Linked DNA regions of Homo sapiens. The protein of the gene in region 1 purifies or fractionates together with the protein of each later gene. This does not show direct contact. Each region holds a gene or a part of one and is shown on either strand. Other genes may lie near its edges. The genes, in order: MYO5B, NPC1L1, EXOC6, SYTL4 and RAB3B.

What was found.
Region 2: the proteins of MYO5B (region 1) and NPC1L1 purify together in Homo sapiens (co-immunoprecipitation; one study listed by IntAct). This does not show direct contact.
Region 3: the proteins of MYO5B (region 1) and EXOC6 purify together in Homo sapiens (affinity purification with western blotting, with the first as the bait; one study listed by BioGRID). This does not show direct contact.
Region 4: the proteins of MYO5B (region 1) and SYTL4 purify together in Homo sapiens (affinity purification with western blotting, with the first as the bait; one study listed by BioGRID). This does not show direct contact.
Region 5: the proteins of MYO5B (region 1) and RAB3B purify together in Homo sapiens (affinity purification with western blotting, with the first as the bait; one study listed by BioGRID). This does not show direct contact.

What each region holds. Positions count from the first base shown.
Region 1 is NC_000018.10:49,900,855-49,905,408, forward strand, and holds part of MYO5B (unconventional myosin-Vb), read right to left. Parts: intron 3,975-4,554; coding exon 3,818-3,974; intron 1,980-3,817; coding exon 1,740-1,979; intron 1-1,739. UniProt on the Homo sapiens protein: May be involved in vesicular trafficking via its association with the CART complex. The CART complex is necessary for efficient transferrin receptor recycling but not for EGFR degradation.
Region 2 is NC_000007.14:44,513,977-44,517,678, forward strand, and holds part of NPC1L1 (NPC1-like intracellular cholesterol transporter 1 isoform 2 precursor), read right to left. Parts: intron 3,382-3,702; coding exon 3,231-3,381; intron 2,959-3,230; coding exon 2,727-2,958; intron 2,222-2,726; coding exon 2,108-2,221; intron 1,990-2,107; coding exon 1,827-1,989; intron 1-1,826. UniProt on the Homo sapiens protein: Plays a major role in cholesterol homeostasis. Critical for the uptake of cholesterol across the plasma membrane of the intestinal enterocyte. Involved in plant sterol absorption, it transports sitosterol, although at lower rates than cholesterol.
Region 3 is NC_000010.11:92,854,383-92,858,936, reverse strand, and holds part of EXOC6 (exocyst complex component 6), read right to left. Parts: intron 1-4,554. UniProt on the Homo sapiens protein: Component of the exocyst complex involved in the docking of exocytic vesicles with fusion sites on the plasma membrane.
Region 4 is NC_000023.11:100,721,481-100,726,034, forward strand, and holds part of SYTL4 (synaptotagmin-like protein 4), read right to left. Parts: intron 1-4,554. UniProt on the Homo sapiens protein: Modulates exocytosis of dense-core granules and secretion of hormones in the pancreas and the pituitary. Interacts with vesicles containing negatively charged phospholipids in a Ca(2+)-independent manner.
Region 5 is NC_000001.11:51,983,854-51,988,407, forward strand, and holds part of RAB3B (ras-related protein Rab-3B), read right to left. Parts: intron 1-4,554. UniProt on the Homo sapiens protein: The small GTPases Rab are key regulators of intracellular membrane trafficking, from the formation of transport vesicles to their fusion with membranes.

The DNA.
Region 1 (4,554 bases):
AGGCATGCACGGGAAAGGACTGAAACCCTTCAGTAATGTTTGGGGTTAAAAAACCCGCAATGCCCCCATTATGGCTGTGGGATCAGAGCTCGGGTAGGATCCTGGTCCCAGCACTTTCTATTTATGTGACTTTGGCAAGGGACTTGATGTCCCTGGCCCACCATTTCCTCATATACAAAATGATCTCACAAAATTGTATGAAGATCAAATAAGAGTGAACACAAAACACATATCGCAGAGCTTGGCACATGGCAGGTGCTTGGAAAATCCTTAGGATCAATGCTGTTCAGCCTGTTGGCATGCGATTTCCTCCCTTATGATACAGCATGCGACATACGTCACAGCCATCCTCTGTCCAGCAAGGCCAGCAAAGCACCTGAAACAGCCAGGCATCCAATAAAGGTCTTCTGAAGGGAAGGAGGACTGGCCATGTGGGCCACCAAAAAGTGGGGGTCCAGGTTTGTGCATGCATACATGTGAGCCTCGTCTATTCCATTAGACAAAGCTGAGTGTTCTGTGCTTGTCTCGAATCTCTTGTACTACGTTGTACGGTACCCAACCCCCTACAGGGATATTTAATCAATGGCTTGTTACCCCTTTGATTGGCTGACATGGGAAGGTGGCCAGGGTAGAAAGAGGACAAAGCTTAAAAATAAGAGTGCTAACCATTTTTCAAGTTTCTCCTACTGCATACCAGGCCCTGCATATGCATTAGACCATTTATTCTTCTTTCAGCCCTGTCAGCCCCATTTTATGGATAAGAAAAGAGGTTCAGAGTAGTCACATCAGCCACTCAACTTTTAAGCAGAAGAACTGAATTCTGATTTCCAAAGCAAACACTCTTTCCAAAAGAGGCAGACAGACAGATAGGCAGACAGAGAGACAGAAGGGCAAAGTGATGCAGAGCATGGGCTCTGGAGCCAGACAGCTGGGGTTCAAACCTCGGCCCTGCCACTGCCACCTGTGTGACTTTAGGATGCCATGTGCCCTTCCAGTGTCTTCAATTGTACAAAAAGGGGGATGGTAATACTTGCCGTAGGAGGGCCGCTATATTAGACAAGCTACTCCAGTCAAAGCGCCAGCCCCATACCCCACACAGCAAGCCCTCCATGCACACCAGCTGCTGCTGCATTACCCTATGTCACCCCTGCAAGGGCAAAACACCAGCACCTTGGGCTAGTGTGTCAGTTTCCTATTGCTGCTGCAACAAGTTACCACCAAGTTATGACTCAAGATAGCATAAATCATTATCTTACAGCTCTGGAGGTCAGGAGTCTGAAGGGGTTGGCACGGCTGCATTCTTTCTGGACGCTCTAGGGGAGAGTCCATGTCTTCGTCTTCTCTGGCTTCTCAAGGCTGCCTGCATCCCTCCCACCTCTGATTCTGTCATCACTTCTTCTCTGAACTTGATCCTCCAGCCTCCCTCTTAGGAGGACCCCTGTTATATCAAGCTCACCTGGCTCACCCAGGATACTCTTCCCATCCTACAGTTCTTAATTTAATTGCATCTGCAAAGTCCCTTTTGCCATATAAGGTAACACACTCACAGATCCCAGGGCTGAGGGTATCTTTAGGGGTCACTGATCTGCCTGCCACAGTTAGTATCTGCTGTGGTCTGAGGACGTCTGTGCTCCCTCGGGTCTTCGGCATGTGCAGTTCCTCAAGGAAGCTGTGGGCTCTCTCAAAATGCTCCAGTACCCAAGCCCCCGACACCCAGGTAGGGAGCTGCAGACACTGACCTGCTCATCGATCTTCCGCTGCAGCTGGACCACCTTGTTCTCCATGCCCACGTTGAGACGTTTCAGATGCTCTGCTGAGCGGGCCTCAATCCTGAGGGCCTTCAGCTCCCGCCTGGCCTTGAGCATCCGGAAGGCACACTGGATGACAATGGCTGCATCCCGCAGCCGCTGGAAGTGCCTGCGTGCCATCCAGCCCCGCACGTGCTTCTGGATGGTGGTGGCCTTGTGCTCCATGAGGACCTGGCGGGAAACAAGGATACACATCTTGTGGGTTTGCACTGCAGGACAGGAGTGAAGGAAGCATACATCACTGCCTGTGGAGGGAAGAGGCCAGGGCAGCCTTGGTTCTAGGAGTTACACAGACAATGTGCCCCCTAAGATCTAAGGCTTTGGTGGTTGTTTTATAACACATTTCAGCGAGGTTCTGCGCCTACATATCCACAGGGAATCAGCTGTCAAACTCTTTTCAGCTTTGTTTTACTTTTTGTTTTATGGGTTAGGAAACCACAGTCTGAAAACCTCAAGGTTGTAGGGGCCTAATGATCATCCACTTGCTCTCTACCCATTTACCAGGTGGAGGTCCCCTCCTGGTGGCACTGAGCTGGAAGTGAGATACTTCAGTGAGTGTCCACAGCAGGCTAATGGCTTATAATTACAAACTTGGTGTGTAATTCACTGTTTTTTTTTTTCTACCAAGTTAAAAAACCACTCAGGATATGAAAGCATCATCAGTGTGCTCGCCCTAATACCTGGTAAAATAAATGTTTGTGGAATAAATGAGTAAACAAGCAAACAGGCTGAGCAATGAACAGTGCCACAGCCATGAGTGACAGAGCTGGGAGCCACATCAGTGCTCACTCTTTGCACATGCTGCCCCTGCTGAGAAACTCCCAAACATCACCTGCCCCTTCCATGGGAGCAGCACACCAACGCCACCCATCACCCAAGAACACTCACAGAACCTTCTCCCAATGGCCTGGGTTTCTCTACATACTACACCAGGGTGTGCTCCACCCTGACCACATTTTTATTATTATCAATTTCGTGCTTTACTTTTATTATTTAGAAAATCACACCTTCTGTGATCATAGAAGAGACAGATGTTCATTTAATGAAAAAGAAAACCATTTTAGACATTTCCTTCCAATTCGTGTTTCAAGTCAGCTCTGTGCTTCAGATGTGTTGGTGTTACCTGGTTGAACAGATGTGTCCTGATGTGGGGCTCCTGAACCCAAGGGTTTTGGCTTCACTGGAACAACACAAAGAGCAAGAACCTGGCAGGGAAGAGGTCGGGGCCTCCCTCCTGACCTCACCATGTTGGGCTTCAAGCTCCTGATCCGTTAAGTGGAGGAGTTAGACCTGATGATGCCCAATACCACCGCCTGCCCTCAAGTGTGAATGAGCCCTAGGTGGGTCACCTGGCCCTGCTGTTGGCTGGCCTGGGCCCTCAGGCAGGTGACCTGGCTTCTCTGAGCAACTCAGGTATCAGAAGGGGTGTGAAAACTGCCATGATTGGATGCTGGGCCCCTTCAAAACTCATGTTGAAATCTGATCCCCTATGTTGGAGATGGAGTCTAACAGGAGATGTTTGAGTCATAGAGGCAGATCCCTCATGAACAAATAAATGCCCTTCTTCAAGGGTGATTTCTCACTGTTAGTTCTCATTAGAGCTGCTTGTTAAAAGAGCCACTCTTGTGCTTCCTCTCTCACCATGCGACCTCTGCACACACCGGCTTCCACCTCCCACCATGAGTGGAAGCAGCCTGAGGCCCTCTCCAGAAGCAGATGTTCAATTGTGAACTTTCTGGCCACCAGAATTGTGAGCCAAATAAACCTCTTTTCTTCATAAATCACCCAGCCTCAGATATTGTTATAGCAACATTTAATGGACTAAGACAACAGTATGCACACCCTTCCTACCTTGTGGGACTTCAGAAAGGATTTGGTGAGAGCAGAGATGTGAAAGCATTTAGAAAAAAGTTGGGAGTGCTTGACAGAGGTTCACGTTGGCAGTAATTCATCTGTTGCCACTTTAGTTCTGAATCTGCAGCCCTGAGGCCCTCAGAGTGGCTACTCACCTGGCGGTAGGTTCTCCGCACAAACATGGCCCGGGTGAAGGCCTGGATAACAACGGCAGCTCTGCGGACCCTCTGGTAGGCCTGGCGGGCCCTCTGCATGCGGTAATGTTTCTGGAGCACCACAGCCGCTCTGATCCTCCGCAGGTGCTCAGCCAGCCTGGGGAGCAAGAGGAAACAGGCAGTGTCAGGGAGAGAGTATTGACCGCCCTGATGCAGAGAACCCTGAGACATCTGCAAATGCAAACCTCTCCCTCTGTGGCCCTACCTGGACACACCCAGGGGAAACCAACTCTCTTCACCCCTAACAAATGTAGCAATGCCTTAGGCATTTGACGTTGTGGCTAGAAAAGCAGTGTTAGTTCTTTCCTTATGGTCTCGAAAGGCTTCCCACAAGCTTCAAACTCAGTCAGAGTCTGACTTCCTCTATGATCCTTATCTGAGCACTCTTCTACCTCACTGTGCCTGGGCAGTCCTCAACTACTTCACCAGTAGCATTCTACATCATGTGTTCACATTGCTGCCTGTCCTCTGTACCTCCCCAGGCTTGGAGATCCCAGGGGCTGTGTCTCCATCATCCTGGACCCACTGTAGGCACTGGGTAAGTGTTTGCTGAATGACTAAACCTTCTCAGGCCCAGACCAATCTCTGTTTCCTTTATCTCCTCAACCCTTTCTGCTCGGGATGCATGGAATGTGGCCATTTCCTCTCCTCTCTTGCCTTTCTGCCTTCCCATCTCA
Region 2 (3,702 bases), on another chromosome or scaffold:
CCTTCCAAGAGGGTCAGGGAGTCCCCACAAGAGACATGGTTAGGAACCACAGAGCTGTGTGGGCTCCAACCCCTACTACCTTTGACCAAGTCTGTAACCTGGGGCAGGTGTCTCAGTTCCCTCATCTGTAAAATGGGAAGGATAATAATACCTGCCTCGGGGGTAGTAAGAGAATTACAGACACATATGTTGATGCACAAACACACCCCTCTATAAATGTCCTCTAATAATATTATTACCATCTGGTGGGAGGTAAAATTGAACTCCTCCCAGCTTGCCCACCCTGAGAGCCAGAAACACCTTCATCCTGGGAGGCTCAATTTGAGCTTCCATGTGCCTCAGCCTCCCAAAGTGCTAGGATTACAAACATGAGCCACCACTCCTGGCCAGCATTTCAAAATATTAATGAGACCGGGTGCGGTGGCCCACGCCTGTAATCCCTGCACTTTGGGAGGCCAAGGCAGATGGATCACCTGAGGCCACAGGAGTTCGAGACCAGCCTGACCAACATGGTGAAACCTGTCTCCAATAAAAATACAAAAATTAGCCAGGTATGGTGGCATACACCGATATCCCAGCTACTCGAGAGGCTGAGACAGGAGAATCGCTTGAACCCAGGAGGCAGAGGTTGCAGTGAGCTGAGATTGCGCCACTGCACTCCAGCCTGGGCAACAGAGAGAGACTCTGTCTAAAAATAATAAAAATAAAAATAATTAAAATAATTAAAAACAAATTAATGATAGGGCTGGGCACAGTGGCTCACGCCTGTAATCCCAGCACTTTGGGAGGCCTTGGCGGTTGGATCACCTGAGGTCAGGAGTTCGAGACCAGCCTGCCCAACATGGTGAAACCCCGTCTCTACTAAAAATAAAAAATAAATAAATAAATTGGCCAGGCGTGGTGGTGCGCACCTGTAATCCCAGCTACTTGGGAGGCTAAAGCAGGAGAATGGCTTGAACTTGGGAGGCAGAGGTTGCAGGGAGCTGAGATCATACCACTGCACTCCAGCCTGGGCAACAGAGCGAGACTCCATCTCAAAAAATAAAAATAAAATAATGTAAAGTAAAATAAAATAAATAACAAATTTAAAGTAAAATAAAAGCCAAGCGCAGTGGCTCACACCTGTAATCCTAGCACTGTGGAAGGCCATGGTGGATCACTTGAGCTCAGGAGTTTGAGACCAGCCTGGGCAACATAGGGAGACCCCATCTCTACAAAAAATAAAAAATTAGCTGGGCATGGTGGTGTGCACCTGTGGTCCCAGCTACTCGGGAGGCTGAGGTGGGAGGATCACTTGAGCCTGGGAAGTCAAGGTGGCAGTGAGCTGTGATCATGCTACTGCACTCCAGCCTGGGTGTCAGAGCAAGACCCTGTCTCCAAAAAATATTAATAATAATAATAGAATGGAACCAGCAATATCAGAATGCTTCACATGTATAAAGGAAGTATTAATATTATTTAGTGAAGCATTTGTTTTAGGCAGGCATGTCTATGTGTGCCCGTGCATGTCACCTCTCTGTGTAAAATATATTTCTTGCTGAAGGGCATGCTTAAAAGTCCAACAGCAGTGCAGTGAAGATCCACAGTGTACAGGGCCACAGAAACGTTGTTTGAGACATACATAGCTGACAAAAAAAGATGTTCACAGCACATTAAATGAATAATAGTAGCTTCCAAGACAGAATTGCCACATGGTCATAGTCCTGGCTTCTGACATCTGCCCATGGCTCGTTTGCACTTCCTGAGCTTTTGTGGTGAGCATGCACTGTTACTGTTGTCGTCAGCATAATCATGACAGTCTGGTAGGAACAGGCCTGGGCACTCACCCACGTAGCTGAGGATGACGGGCAGGAAGACCAAGCCATGCAGCAGGCCCAGCAGAGTGATCAGGAGGTTGAGGCGGAAGAAGAAGATCTGAATGAGCTGGGCCTTGGCGAGGCCCAGGACAAGGATGCCAGGCAGGTTGGTCATGGCCACACCTGCAAACACCTGGGGGGTTCAGAGCCAGGTGTCAGGCAGGGCACAGGGCATCAGGCAGGGCACAGGGCATCAGGCAGGGCACAGGGTGTCGAGTGGGGCACAGGGTGGCCCACTCCTCTCCACTCACCGCACTTCCCATAGAGATGGTGGCCTCTTTGGCCCTCTCCAGCCAGGTGGGCTTGGTGCTGATGGCAAAGGAGCGGGTAATGTGGGACACAAACTCCACAGACATGCCCACCGCCTATGGGCAGAGAGGGGGCATAAGCCAAGAAAGGCAGAGGTGGGGAAGGAACTAGGGAGATGAGGCCTCCACCAGGACCAGCGTGGGGCAGGCATCTAGATTCTAGACAGAACTGGGAGTATTTGGCCGGGTGCAGTGGCTCATGCCTATAATCCCAACACTTTGGGAGGCCGAGGTGAGAGGATCACTTGAGCCCAGGAGTTTGAGACCAGCCTGGGCAACAAAGTGAGACCCTGTCTCTACAACAAAAATTAAAATATTAGCTGGACGCAGTGGCACGTGCCTGTAGTCCTGGCTACTTTGGAGGCTGAGGTAGGAGGATCGCTTGAGCCCAAGGGTTCGAGGCTACAGTGAGCTGTGATCATGTCACTGCCCTCAAGCCTGAGCAACAGAGCAAGACCCTGCCTCTAAAAAAAGAAACAAAAAAGAACTAGGAGTATTCTATGAGGCTGGATCCCCAACCACCCCTCCAGAGGCCCCCTGGTGCCTGTGTCTGCTGGGTTACCGAGACCAGGTTGATGAGGGACACAGCATTGTAACTGATGCCCCACAGGGCCATGAAGCCGACAGTGTCCACGAGGATCATGACAATGGAGAGCAGGTTGAGGAGGCCGGAGCGCAGGTCCAGGCCCAGCAGGAGGCAGGAGACAGCGAAGGTGGGCACAAGGCAGAGGCTGAGCATGAAGAGCCCCTCAGGGAGGATGGTCAGGTACTGCTCATAAAACACATTGGTGATCCTGCCAGAGCACAGAGCATGGTCACAGGCTCAGGCCTCTGGGGCCCTCATGGTGGGTGGGACACCCCACTTCAGAAGGAGAATGCTGAGGGTCAGGCAGGCTTATATTGGGGTACAAACCAGCCTAAGAAATAGGCCCAAGGCTGCAGCCAGAGCCTCCTGACCTAAAACTGGTCCTCATCTCATGCAACTCCTTGCAAGCCCTCCACCCTAACCTCCAGTCTCCAGCAACCATACCCCACCTCCCTCCAGCCCAGCCACTCAGGTCCTCACGTGTAGGGGAAGACCTCAAAAGCCGGGTCTGTTCCAGGCACTTTCCGCAGGTCAGCAGTGATGTTGGCTGCCAGCTCTCGAGCTGCCCGCAGAGCTTCTGTGTAATCCTGTGAGTTTTTCAGGGGCTTGTGATAGGCCATGAACCTGGAGGCTGGACAGCCATGGCACACAGAAGATGGAAGGGCAAAGGTCAGAGCCCTTTCCAGGACAACTTCAGAACACCGCAGACGCAGTGGCACAGGCATGTGATCAAGCGGGGTTCAGGGCTCTGCCACCACCATTTGAAATTCTTAGTAAATTTTGTGCAAGAGGCCCATATTTTTGTTTTGCACCAGCCCTGCAAACTCCATAGCTGGCCCCACTGCTGTGGGAGACCCAGGCCTGACCTTTGATGAGTGAAGCCTACAGAGATCTCCCTAGTGAACCGAGATTCTTCTCTGTATGGTTTCAAGATATGCATTGGATTTTTAAA
Region 3 (4,554 bases), on another chromosome or scaffold:
AAAAATTAGCCGGGTGTGGCGGTGTGCGCCTGTAGTCCAGGTACTTGGGAGGCTGAGACAGGAGAATTGCTTGAACCTGGGCAGCGGAGGTTGCAGTGAGCCAAGATTGTGCCACTGCACTCCAACCTGGGTGACAGAGCAAGACTCTGTCTCAAAAAAAACGAAAGAAAGAAATAGGCAATAGAAACTGCTTATGAGATGGCCCAGATGTTGGATGTAGCAGACTTCAAAGCAGCCATAATAACTATGCTCACAGAACTAAAAAGAAGAAGCAAAGGAAAGTATGATGACAATGTCTTACCAAATAGAGATGGATAAAGAAGTAGAAATTATTTTTTTTAATAATTGGAAATTCCAGAGTTGAAAAGTCAGTAACATAAATGAAAAATTCATTGGAGGGTCCCAACAGTGGATGTGAATTGGCAGAAGGAAGAATCAGTGAATATACAAGACAGTCTGATTATGCAATCAGAGAACAAGAGAGAAAAAACAGTAAGAGAGAAAAAAGAACAGGAGAGAAAAAAGAATAAGGAAAATGAACAGAGTCTCAAATAAATGTGGACATCATTAAGCACACCAGCATACATGAGATGGGAGCACCAAAGTAGAGAAGAGAAAGGAACAGAATGACTATTTAAAGAAATAATTTAAAATTTCCAAAATTTGATGAAAAACATTAACCTACATATCTAAGAAGATCAACAAACTCCAAGTAAGATAAACATAAAGAGATCCATATCCAGGTACATCATAGTAAAATAATGAGAGACAAACGGAAAATCCTGAAAACAACAAGAAACTGCTGATTACATAAGGGAATTCCAATAAGATTAACAGCTGACTTCTCATCAGAAATAATGAAGCCCAGAGGCAGTGGAAAGACATATTCAAACTGCTGGCCGGCGGAGGGGGGGAACCCGTCAACTAAAAATCTTACATATGGTAAAACTATCTTTCAAAAATGAAGATGACATAAAGACATGCCCAGATTTTAAAAAAACAGACAAACAACAACAACAAAAAAAACAGGAAATAGTTTCAAGCAGACCAGCCTTACAAGAAATACAAAAGGAATTTCCTCACGATTAAGAGTGAACTCAGATGACCATTTGATCACACACAGACACACAGACCAGACACACACAGACACACACAAAGAACACCAGTAAAGGTAACTATGTAATTATAAAATACAGTATAAATGCATACTTCTCATTTCTTATCTGATTTGTGGAAGCAGTTGCATAAAACTACATGTACATAATTGTATTGGTGGCATGCAACATATAAAATATATATAGAATATATGTAATACAATGGACAATCACAACACAAAGGATGTATGTGGGAGCAAAGCCATTCTGGAGTAAGAAAATGACACAAGATGACAACTAAAAACCCAGCAACAAATGAAAAGAATCAGAAACAGTAAATAAGAAACTTAATATAACAAACTTTAAAAATACATATTGGTCTCTGTTCTTCTTTCTGCTTCTTTAAAAGACAAAAAATTATAAAAAGTAACAATTATAGTAATGTATTATTGTAATAACACAAAAAAAGGGAAAGAAGGAATATAGCTATATAAGAGTAACATTTCTATACCTTACTGGAAATTAGACTAATTCTGAAGTAGATTCTGAGAGCAACCACTAAGAACTAACTTTTTTCTAAATTCCCAAAAAATCACTAATTAAAATATTACACCAGAAAATATTTGCTTAATGCAAAAGCAGCAGTAAAAAAGGAATAGAGGAGCAAAAAAAAAAAGGAAGAAAGAAATGAGACATAGAACACAAGAAAAACAGCAGATGTGAATCCAACTATGTAAATAATAACATTAAATATGAATAAACAATCAAAAGGCATAGGTTCTCAAATTGGATAAAAATAAGATCCAATGATGTGCTATCTACAAGAGATACACTTTAGATTTAATGACATATTTAAAAGTAAACAGAAAAACATATATCATGAAAAGAGCAACTATAAGAAAGCTGCAGCAGCTATACTAATATCTGACATAACAGACTTTAAAACAAGTCTAGAAATAAAGGATATTTTATGACGGCAAATGGTCAATCAATAAGGAATATATAAAGTATAAACATATATGCATCTAACAACAGAGCCTGAAAAGACATAAAAACTACTCATCATTCAATAATGGATAGAACAACTAAGCAGAAGACCAAAAGGGAATAGGAGACGTGAACAATACTCTAAGCTAATTAGACCTAACAGACCTCTATAGAATACTCCCTCCAACAACAGTAGGATACACAGTCTTCTCAAGGGAACATGGAACATTCTCCAGTACAGACTATGTTAGGCAATAAAATAAGCCTCAATAAACTTAAAATAAACTGAAGTCATACAAATTATTATCTCTGACTGCAATGGGATTAAATTAGAAATTAATAACAGAAGGACATTTTAGAAATTCACAAATATGTTGAAATTAAGCACACTTCTAAATAACCAGTGAAAGAGGAAATAATAAGGAAAACTAAAGATATTTTGAAGAAAGGTAAATGAAAACACACATGCCAAAAAGTTTTAGATGAAGCTAATGCTGTTCTTAGAGAAAAATTTATAGCTGTAAAAACCAATATTAAAAAATAAGAAAGATCTCAAATTAATAACCCAAACTTCCATCGTAAGGTTGGGTTCCATCATAATAAAAAAGAGAGCAACCCAACCCAAAACAAGCAGAAGAAAGAAAGTAATAAAGATTAGATCAGATGTAAATGTAACAGAAAAACAATAGAGAGGCCAGGTGCAGTGGCTCATGCCTGTAATCCCAGAAATTTTGGAGGCAAAGGCAGGCAGATCACCTGAGGTCAGGAGTTCAAGACCAGCCTGGCCAACGTGGCAAACCCTATCTCTACTAAAAATATAAAAATTAGCCAGGCATGGTGGCATGTGCCTGTAATCCCAGCTAGTCGAGAGGCTGAAACAGGAGAATCGCTTGAACCCAGGAGGCGGAGGTTGCAGTGAGCCAAGATCGCGCTACTGCACTCCAGCCTGGGCAACAGAGCAAGACTTCATCTCAAAAAAAAGAAAAAACAAAAACAATAGAGAAAAAAATCAATAAAACAGAGAGTTGGTTCTTTGAAAAGATCAACAAAATTGACAAACCTTTATCTAGAATGACCAAGCAAAAACAAAGACTCAAATTACTAAATTCAAGAACAAAAGAGAGAATGTTACAGAAATAAAAATAAGAAAAAGTTATGAGCAATTATATGTCAACAACTAAAATAATCTAAATGAAACACAACAAATTCCTAGAAAGACACAAACTATCAAAACTAACTCAAGAAAACTAGAAAATCTGAGTATACCTTTAACAAGTAATGAAATGGAATCAGTAATCGAAAACTTCCCAACAAAGAAAATACACATGGCTTAACTGGAAAATTTTACCATATATTTAAAGAATTAACATTAATCATTCACAAGCTCTTCCAAATGTGGAAGAGAAGCGAACACTTCCTAACTCATTCTATAAGGCCAGCATTACCCTGATACCAAAGCCAGATAAAGACATCACCAAAAAAAGAAAATTACAGAGCTGGGCATGGTGGAACATGCCTGTAGTTTCAGATACTCAGGAGGCTGAGGTGGGAGAACTGCATGAGCTCCAGAGTTCAAGACCAGCCTGGGCAATGTAGCAAGATCCTGTCTCAAACATAAATTAAAAAAAAAAATTTTCATGCCAGGCACAGTGGCTCATGCCTATAATTCCAGCTACTCGGGAGGCTAAGGTAGGAGGACTGCTTGAGGCCAGAAGTACAAGATCAGTCTGGGCAACACAGTGAGATTTTGTCTCTAAAAAAATTACAGAAATCCCTCATGAATATAGATGTAGAAATTCTCAATAAAATACTAGCAAACCAAATCCAACAGTATATTAAAGAGGATTATACACTATGGCCAAATGAGATTTATCCTAGGAATGCAAGGGTAATTAAACATGAGGAAATCAATCAATGTAATGTACCACATGAATAGAATAAAGGGGGGAAAAAACCCAAATACTCATCTCAATTGAGAGAGCACCAACTCATTCTATGAGGTATCATTCTCATATCAAAGACATCACACACACACACACAAAAAACAGATCAAAATATCTTATGAATACACATGCAAAAATCCTCAACAAAATACTAGCAAACAGAATCCAACAACATATAAAAAGGATTATACTTTATGCACTATGATCAAATGGGATTTATCCCATGAATACAAAGTTGGTTTACATCTGATAATGTAATATACCATATCAAAAGAATAAGGGACAAAACCACATGATCACCTCAATAGATACAGAAAAAAGCATCTGATAAAATTCAACACCCCTTCATAATGAAAACTAAGAGAACTCCTCAACCTGATAAACAGCATTTATGGAATTCCCACAGCAGTGTATGAGAGTGCCAGTTCTTCTACATCCTTACCAATACATGGTATAGTCAGTCTTTTTTTTTTTTTTGAGATGGAGTCTCATTCTGTCGCCCAGGCTGGAGTGCATTGGCACAATCTCGG
Region 4 (4,554 bases), on another chromosome or scaffold:
ACTGCCTGGATCATAATATGCACAAAATAAATATTTGTTGAATGAATGAGCTGGCATCAAGAATACCATATATCATATTCAGCCACACCCAAGAGCTTATCATCTAGGACTTCTCCACCTTTGATATCACTGATTCAACACCCCCTCTCTGACCACAACCTGCTGTGCTTCTAGCCTATTCAGCCAATGAGCCCCCCAACTAGCCCCATTCCTGTTCTCAGATTTCTTGGATGGGGGCAGTCTTCCATAGACCCTTCTGCTTTCACCTCCTCAGCTCCTTCCCATCTTTACTTCCTTCCCAATAACATTTAAATTTTATTGTTTCTTTCTCTTTTTTTTTTCTGAGACTTTTTCTCTATTGCTCTGGCTGGAGTGCAGTGGCATGATCTTGGCTCACTGCAACCACTGCCTCCTGGATTCAAGCGATTCTCCTGCCTCAGCCTCCCAAGTAGCTGGGATTACAGGTGTGCGCCACCATGCCCGGCTAATTTTTGTATTTTTAGTAGAGATGGGGTTTCACCATGTTGGCCAGACTGGTCTCGAGCTCCTAACCTCAGGTGATCCACCCGCCTCAGCCTCCCAAAGTGCTGGGATTACTGGTGTGAGCCACCGCACCCAGCCAATTCTATTGTTTCAACTGCACTCTTGTCAATATCCTCAATAATGCATAATTTCACTGCAAATATCTGATTTAAAAAACCATAGCTCTTCTAAGCCCAACTGTTATACTTTATGCATGCACAAGGACTCCTGAGATCTACTGGAGAAAAAAAAATCACACTCTGGTAGATTATTATCCATATGAATTCTTGGTCACCAAGCTCATCTTAACCCTGCCTGGCACTGCAACTATGCTTCCCTAGGCTGCTCTCCTGTTCTCCACAATAACTATTTCAAACCTTCTTCAAATACCACAAATATCTAACTCAAACCTTGTCCCATCTTAACCCCTGCTCTAAGAGGTTGGCCTTAACTATTATATCATAGAGAAATAGAAATACCATCAGACAAGTTCCTGCCGCCAAATCTATGAACCTACTTTCATCTATGCCTATTGAGGATAATCCTCTACCTCAATCTGGATCCCCTCCCATCTGGCATAAGGACTTTGCCTTCCAAGGATTTTGCTCTATTAATTAGTCCCTCCTTCCCACCAGCCTTTAAAGGAACTCAAGTCCTTCCTAAATAAATAAATAAATAAATAAATAACAGGTCCTCAATCTCAACTCCTTCCTTGCTACTACCCTTTCTCTGCTCTTCAAAGCCAGACAGATTTCTCTAAGGAATTGTACATAATCACTGCCTTCACTTCCTCATCTCTCCAATCATTTCTCAACCCACCATAGTTTAGCTTTCTGCCTCACAGTTCTCTGAAATTGCTCTAAGGTCACCAAGAACTTCCTAAATCCAATAGACAGTTCTTGGTCTTCCTAGATTTCTCTGGATCTTTAGTACCACTGACCATATTTTTAACATAGCCATTTCATTTTGAGAAACTTATTCTGCTGATATTCAAGTAAATTCACAAATATATATTCTGAGGATGCTCAATATTTGAAACAGCAAAAAAAAAAAAATTAAAGAACATAAACATCCATCAAAGGAAACTGACTAGTTATTGTACACACATATTAGGGAATATTGTGCCTTTGTTAAAAAGAAGAAGGTACGGTCTCCCTCTGATGCAGAGGTGAAGCTGGACTGTACTGCTGCCATCTCGGCTCACTGCAACCTCCCTGCCTGATTCTCCTGCCTCAGCCTGCCGAGTGCCTGCGATCGCAGGCGCGCGCCGCCACGCCTGACTGGTTTTCGTATTTTTTTGGTGGAGATGGGATTTCGCTGTGTTGGCCGGGCTGGTCTCCAGCTCCTAACCACGAGTGATCCGCCAGCCTTGGCTTCCCGAGGTGCTGGGATTGCAGACGGAGTGTCGTTCACTCAGTGCTCAATAGTGCCCAGGCTGGAGTGCAGTAGCGTGATCTCGGCTCACTACAACCTCCACCTCCCAGCCGCCTCCCTTGGCCTCCCAAAGTGCCGAGATTGCAGCCTCTGCCCGGCCGCCACCCCATCTGGGAAGTGAGGAGTGTCTCTGCCTGGCCGCCATCCCATCTAGGAAGTGAGGAGCGCCTCATCCCGGCCGCCATCCCATCTAGGCAGTGAGGAGCGTCTCTGCCCGGCCGCCCATCGTCTGAGATGTGGGGAGCGCCTCTGCCCTGCCGCCCCGTCTGGGATGTGAGGAGCGTCTCTGCCCGGCCGCCCCGTCTGAGAAGTGAGGAGCCCCTCCGCCCGGCAGCCGCACCGTCTGAGAAGTGAGGAGTCCCTCCGCCCGGCAGCCACCCCGTCTGGGAAGTGAGGAGCGTCTCCGCCTGGCAGCCACCCCGTCCGGGAGGGAGGTGGGGGTCAGCCCCCGCCAGGCCAGCCACCCTGTCCGGGAGGGAGGTGGGGGGTCAGCCCCCGCCAGGCCAGCCGCCCCGTCAGGGAGGGAGGTGGGGGGGTCAGCCCCCCGCCCGGCCAGCCGCCCCGTCCGGGAGGGAGGTGGGGGGGGTCAGCCCCCCGCCCAGCCAGCCGCCCCGTCCGGGAGGTGAGGGGCGCCTCTGCCCGGCCGCCCCTGCTGGGAAGTGAGGAGCCCCTCTGCCCGGCCAGCCGCCCCGTCCGGGAGGGAGGTGGGGGGGGTCAGCCCCCCACACGGCCAGCCGCCCCGTCCGGGAGGGAGGTGGGGGGGTCATCAGCTCCCCCGCCCGGCCAGCCGCCCCGTCCAGGAGGGAGGTGGGGGGGGTCAGCGCCCCGCCCGGCCAGCCGCCCCATCCGGGAGGTGAGGGGCGCCTCTGCCCGGCCGCCCCTACTGGGAAGTGAGGAGCCCCTCTGCCCGGCCACCACCCCGTCTGGGAGGTGTACCCAACAGCTCATTGAGAACGGGCCATGATGACAATGGCGGTTTTGTGGAATAGAAAGGGGGGAAAGGTGGGGAAAAGATTGAGAAATCGGATGGTTGCCATGTCTGTGTAGAAAGAGGTAGACATGGGAGACTTTTCATTTTGTGCTGTACTAAGAAAAATTCTTCTTCCTTGGGATCCTGTTGATCTGTGACCTTGCCCCCAACCCTGTGCTCTCTGAAACATGTGCTGTGTCCACTCAGGGTTGAATGGATTAAGGGTGGTGCAAGAGGTGCTTTGTTAAACAGATGCTTGAAGGCAGCATGCTCGTTAAGAGTCATCACCACTCCCTAATCTCAAGTACCCAGGGACACAAACACTGCGGAAGGCCGCAGGGTCCTCTGGCCTAGGAAAACCAGAGGCCTCTGTTCACTTGTTTATCTGCTGACCTTCCCTCCACTATTGTCCTGTGACCCTGCCAAATCCCCCTCTGCGAGAAACACCCAAGAATGATCAATAAAAAGAAAAAAGAAAAAAAAAAAAAGAAGAAGGTACTGTAGTTCTATATATACTGACACTGAAAGCATATTAAATTAAAAAAATTGCAAATCATATATATTATGATTCCATTTTTATTTGTTTACATTTTAGACAGATTGGATCATGGATGAATGGAAAAATGTCTAGAAAGAAATACAATCTTAACATTGTTACCTCTGGAGAGTGGGATAAGCAGGAACAGAAGATTTATATGTTACCTTTTATTGAGTCAAGTAATAAAAATGTAGTCCCATCCCTAAGCACAGCAACACTTCTAGGTAAGAAAAAAATTTCACAGGAGATCAAAAGGGAATGGCCGTAGAGACTAGGGGAAAATATTTTAAGGTCACCAGGGCTAAGAGAGAAAGGAGAGAAGTGTAGCTAATGGTTTCAAACATGGAATGAGAGATCTATTAAAAACAAGAAGAGGTAAGTATCCAATAGACAGAGAGCGTGAATAGATAATTCTTAAAGGGGAAAAATCACATGGCCAATACACATCAAAAAGAAAAAGTTTCACTCTTACTGGCAATAAAGATTTTTTTATGTTTGCTTATTAATTCAGCAAAATTTCAGAAAGACAATTTTCAGTTTTTAAAAAGGATTTAAGAGATATTCTCATATTTTGTTGGCAAATGTAAATTAGTAAGGCCTGTTAAAAAGCAATGTGACAATCTGATTTCTAAGAAAACTGAACTTCACAGAACTTATCACAATTGTAATTAAAAAATTATGTGATACAATATTTAATATACACTTCCCCTGCCGAAATAAGTTCCAGGAGAAAAATGGCCATTGTCTACCTTCTTCTCAGCCATACCTCAAGCATCTAGCTGGGTTGATGGATGGATAGATGGATAAATCTACATTGTAGGATCCTGACTGTAGGCTCTCAGTTGGTGCAACGTAAATCCTCAGTAAATCAACACAGAGCATGGCACAACATAGGCCCTCAGTAAATCAAATCACGCTTTCTGATGAGTTTAAAGACACTGATACTAATGGTATTCTGATGCCTGAATCGATAGAGCTACAAACAAGAAGCAGTGTAGATGCCATGGAAATTTTCTACTTCTTAAAAATTACTCAAGGTCAAGTTAGGTTTAGATAGTCACAGATATGAATATGAAAGCCACAGTGGTCC
Region 5 (4,554 bases), on another chromosome or scaffold:
GGAGGCTGAAGCACAAAAATTGCTTGAACCCAGGAGGCGGAGGCTGCAGTGAGTCAAGATTGCACAACTACACTCCAGTCTGGGTGACAGAGCAAGACACTGTCTCAAAAAAAAAGAAAAGAAAGTAAGGGCTGGGCGCGGTGGCTCATGCCTGTAATCCCAGCACTTTGGGAGGCTGAGGCGGGTGAATCACGAGGTCAGGAGTTCGAGACCAGTCTGGCCAACATGGTGAAACCCCATCTCTACTAAAAATACAAAAAATTCGCTGGGCGTGGTGGTGGCTGCCTGTAATCCCAGCTACTCTGGAGGCTGAGGCAGGAGAATCACTTGAACCTGGCAGGCGGAGGTTACAGTGAGCGGAGATTGTGCCACTGCACTCCAGCCCAGGCAACAGTGGAGACTCTCTAATTAAAAAAAAAAAAAAAAAAAAAAAAAAAAAAAAAAGCATGAACGAGACTTTGAAAACTCTAAAAAAACATCATTTCAGTTGACTACATTATATTCCATCCTATAGATGTGTCATAAGACCAATTCTTTTTTTTTTTTTTTTTTTTTGAGACAGAGTCTTGCTCTGTCACCCTGGCTGGAGTGCAATGGCACAATCTTGGCTCACTGCAACCTCCAACTCCTGGGTTCAAGCGATTCTCCTGCCTCAGCCTCCCAAGTAGCTGGGACTACAGGTGCTCACCATCACACCGGCTAATTTTTGTATTTTTAATAGAGATGGGGTTTCACCATGTTGGCCCAGCCAGATCAATTATTTAATGTTGTCACTCTCTTTAGGAAGTTGTTTTTAAGTTGTTTTTCTACTCTTAATTATTATACATGAAACTGCAGTGAACATTTCTTTACATAAATTTTTGTACATTTTCCTAATTACTTCCTTGAGAGAGATTCCTTGAAGTGGAATTGCTGGTCAAAGAGTCACTACTAAAACATAAATGTGATCTTTACCACAATTTCATATCCTTTATCTTCTTTTATCTCTAAATAAACCTGGGAAATAAAGCTGGAAAGACGTGGATTATTATTTCCATTTGATCAAGAAGGAAACTGAAAATGAGAAATTAAAAGGATTTGCCCAAATCTCATAGCTAACAGCCGAGACTAGACTTAGTACCCTGCAGTGTTATGAAAAAGTTTAAAATCAATGCTCTACCCTCAGATGAATTCTTAGGTAAGTCATATTGCCTCTCTAAGCCACAGCACTTTTACCTTAAAATAGAGAAAATACCACCTACTTCACAGAGCTTGGTACAAATAGAAAGAGTAGTACTATACGTAAACAATCTGACACAGTTTCTCGGCCCATGGAGGTACTGAATACATATTATTTCACTGGCCCCTTTAATTCACTTCTGCAGGCAAATCTTGTTCAACTGCCCTCTCCCTGATTGTGGCTCCATTATTTGGGCCTGTTTTACAATTAACTGTTTGCTCTCTCTTCTGGATTCAAGGGGGCTTTATCCATCCTTACATCTGGTCAACGCTAGACCTACAGTAAATCCTTAGAGGGTGTTATGTCTTTCAAGAAACACATATAGAGCATTTTTCAAGTGCCAGACTATCAGTGTAAATGTCAGATTACTGGTTTTCACTTTTCTGATGTAGCCCAGCTTCACACTCTTAAACTGCTAGAATTAGAGGGGACTTTGGAGTAGCAGCTTTTTATTGTAACAAAAAGCCTGGCTACTGGGCCCAGCTTTCCCAGTAACTCAGTGTGTAAACTTGGCCTAGTTACTTAAATTCTATGCCTCAGTGTCCTCATCTGACAATAATACTTACTTCACGAGGTGCTGTGAATTTTAAATAAGAGAACGTATATAAGTATGTTTCATACACTGTGCTGAGAAAAATACATGTAGCCTCGTGTAGAATCAGTGAGAAATTTGCCTGCCTTTATTAGCTGTGACTGCCACAGATAGGAGACTAGGAAGTGATGGCAAGAGTAAAAAATTGTTTCAGTTCCTGATCTACCTCCGTTTATCTTACAGGTAAAAAAAAAAAAAAAAAATTGAGGCTCTGCAAAGACAAGTGATTTGTCCAAGCTCACACAGCAAGTCAGTTGGAGGGTCATGAATGGAACTTCTGTTACCTAATGGCTTCCAGGTTTGACGGGATTAAGGAAAACGAAAACCACAACAATTTTAGGGTGAATAAAGAAGCATCCTGGCTGGGCATGGTGGCTCATGCCTGTAATCCCAACACTTTGGGATGCCAAAATGGGAAAATCACTTGAGGCCAGGAGTTCAAAACCAGCCTGGGAAACATAGTGAGATTCCATTTCTACGAATTTTTTTTTTTTTTTTTTTTTTGAGGCAGAGTCTCACTCTGTCGCCCAGGCTGGAGGGCAGTGGCGCGATCTCAGCTCACTGCAAGCTCCGCCTCCCGGGTTCACGCCATTCTCCTGCCTCAGCCTCCCGAGTAGCTGGGACTACAGACACCCGCCACCATACCCGGCTAATTTTTTGTATTTTTACTAGAGATGGGGTTTCACCGTGTTAGCCAGGATGGTCTCGGTCTCCTGACCTTGTGATCCGCCTGCCTCGGCCTCCCAAAGTGCTGGGATTACAGGCGTGAGCCACCGCGCCCAGCCAAAAAAAGTTTAAATTAGTCGGATGTGGTGGTGTGCACCTGTAGTCCTCGGTACTTGGGAGGCTGAGGCTGGAAAATCACTTGAGTCCAGAGGTTCGAGGTTAGAGTGAGCTATGATTGCACCACTGTATCCCAACCTGGGTGACAGAGTGAGACCCTATCTCTAAAAATAAAAATTAAAAAAAAGAAGCATACCCAACATCCTGAGTGTCCTGCTACCGTACTGTACTTGCCATACCACACTGTTAACATCTGCTTATGCACACACAGCATGGCTTTCCCAGTAGGTGGTGTGAGAACGGGGAGAGGCAGAGAGCTGAGTTCAGTTGGAAGGCTCATTCAGATGGAAGCCCCCAAGGGGATCTTCTTAGGAGGGGGCGGCCAGGGGCTACTCAGACATTTGGAAGACAGGCAAAAAGCATCCCAGCAGGCAGCTGCCTGAGGCAGATCTAAGCAGACAGGTCATGCACAGTGGTGCATGCAGAATTGCATTTGTAAGATAAGCATCAATCAAATCTTTCCTCTATTTTGTGACAGTCACATAAAATGATAGAGCTATCTCCGTGACAAGCAATACAGATGAAGGCCCAGGGACCATCTGGGAAGTCGTCCCTGTCCCAGGCTGGGGGAAAGAAATGACTCCTCAAAGGGTGGCTGTGAAAAACAACCCTTTCAGTCTGATAGGCGGCAGAAATAAGCACCTAAGGAAGAAGCCAACTTCAGCCAGGAAAGAGCGGGGAGGAGGAGGAGAGAGCCCTAAAATCCAGCGAGAAGAGATCAGCTCAATAAATGGAGTGAAGAAGTGAATGAAGGAACTTACCTTTTGTTGCAAAGAACATGAGACTGAGTCCAAGAGACCTGGCATTTGAAAGATAAGCCCTGGCTCTTTCAGTGATCCTGTAAACTTAGGCAAATCACACCCCTGGCCTCAGTTTCCTTATCTATAAAAGGAGCTCATAAAATGGCTTCCTGGCAAAACTGTTGCAAGAATTAAAACCTGTATATGGGAGGGTGTTTTATTAACCCCTTATTTTGTTTGTTTGTTTGTCTCTGTGCTTCATGGTTTCTTCTAGCAAGTCATCCTGTGTAGTGGAAATAGTTTGGAGCTCCAAATCAAACAAACTAGATTCAGTTTCCAGGTCTATCATTTATTACCTATGAGACCTTGGCAAGAAATGTTACATGATTAAGACAGTTTCCTCATTCATAAAACAAGTGTTGTTGGGAAAATTATAGGTAATGTGGGTTATACATCTAGAATAGTACAGTAATTTCTTGGTATAGGCAAGGGATTGGCTCCAGGACCCCCATATATACCGAAATCCACGCCTACTCAAGAACCACAGTTGGCCCAGTGGAACCCACCTAGACTAAAAGTTGGTCCTCTGAATATACAGACTTCACCTCCCTTCACTACTGTATTTTCTTCTCTTTTTCTTCTTTTTTAAGAGATGGGTGTCACTCTGTTTCCCAGGATGGAGTACAGTGGCCTGATCATAACTCACTGTAGCTTCAGGTTCCTGGGCTCAAGCGATCCTCCTACCTCAGCCTCCCAAATAGCTGGGATTCCAGGTTTGAGCCACTGCGCTTGACCCACCATGGTATTTTTTTTAATCAGTGTTTGGTTGAAAAAAAAAATTCAGGTATAAGTGAACCTACACAGTTCAAACCCATGCTGTTCAAAGGTCAACTGTATATGCAATATAGCAGGGGCTCAATAATGTAATTCCCTGTCTTCCTACTTGGAGCATTTCAGTGAGAATAAGAAGGGAGTTGGGCAAATGTGGACCTCATCCTCCTTTAAGCCATACTCTACTTTTCTAATTCAATCTGTCTTTAGACCATTCCCCACTGCTGACCCATCACCACCTTCTCATTGTTTTCCCAGGTCTCCTAGAGCCACAGAAACAATATCACAATAGCTACCATTTATTGAGCACCTACTAAATGTCTAGCATT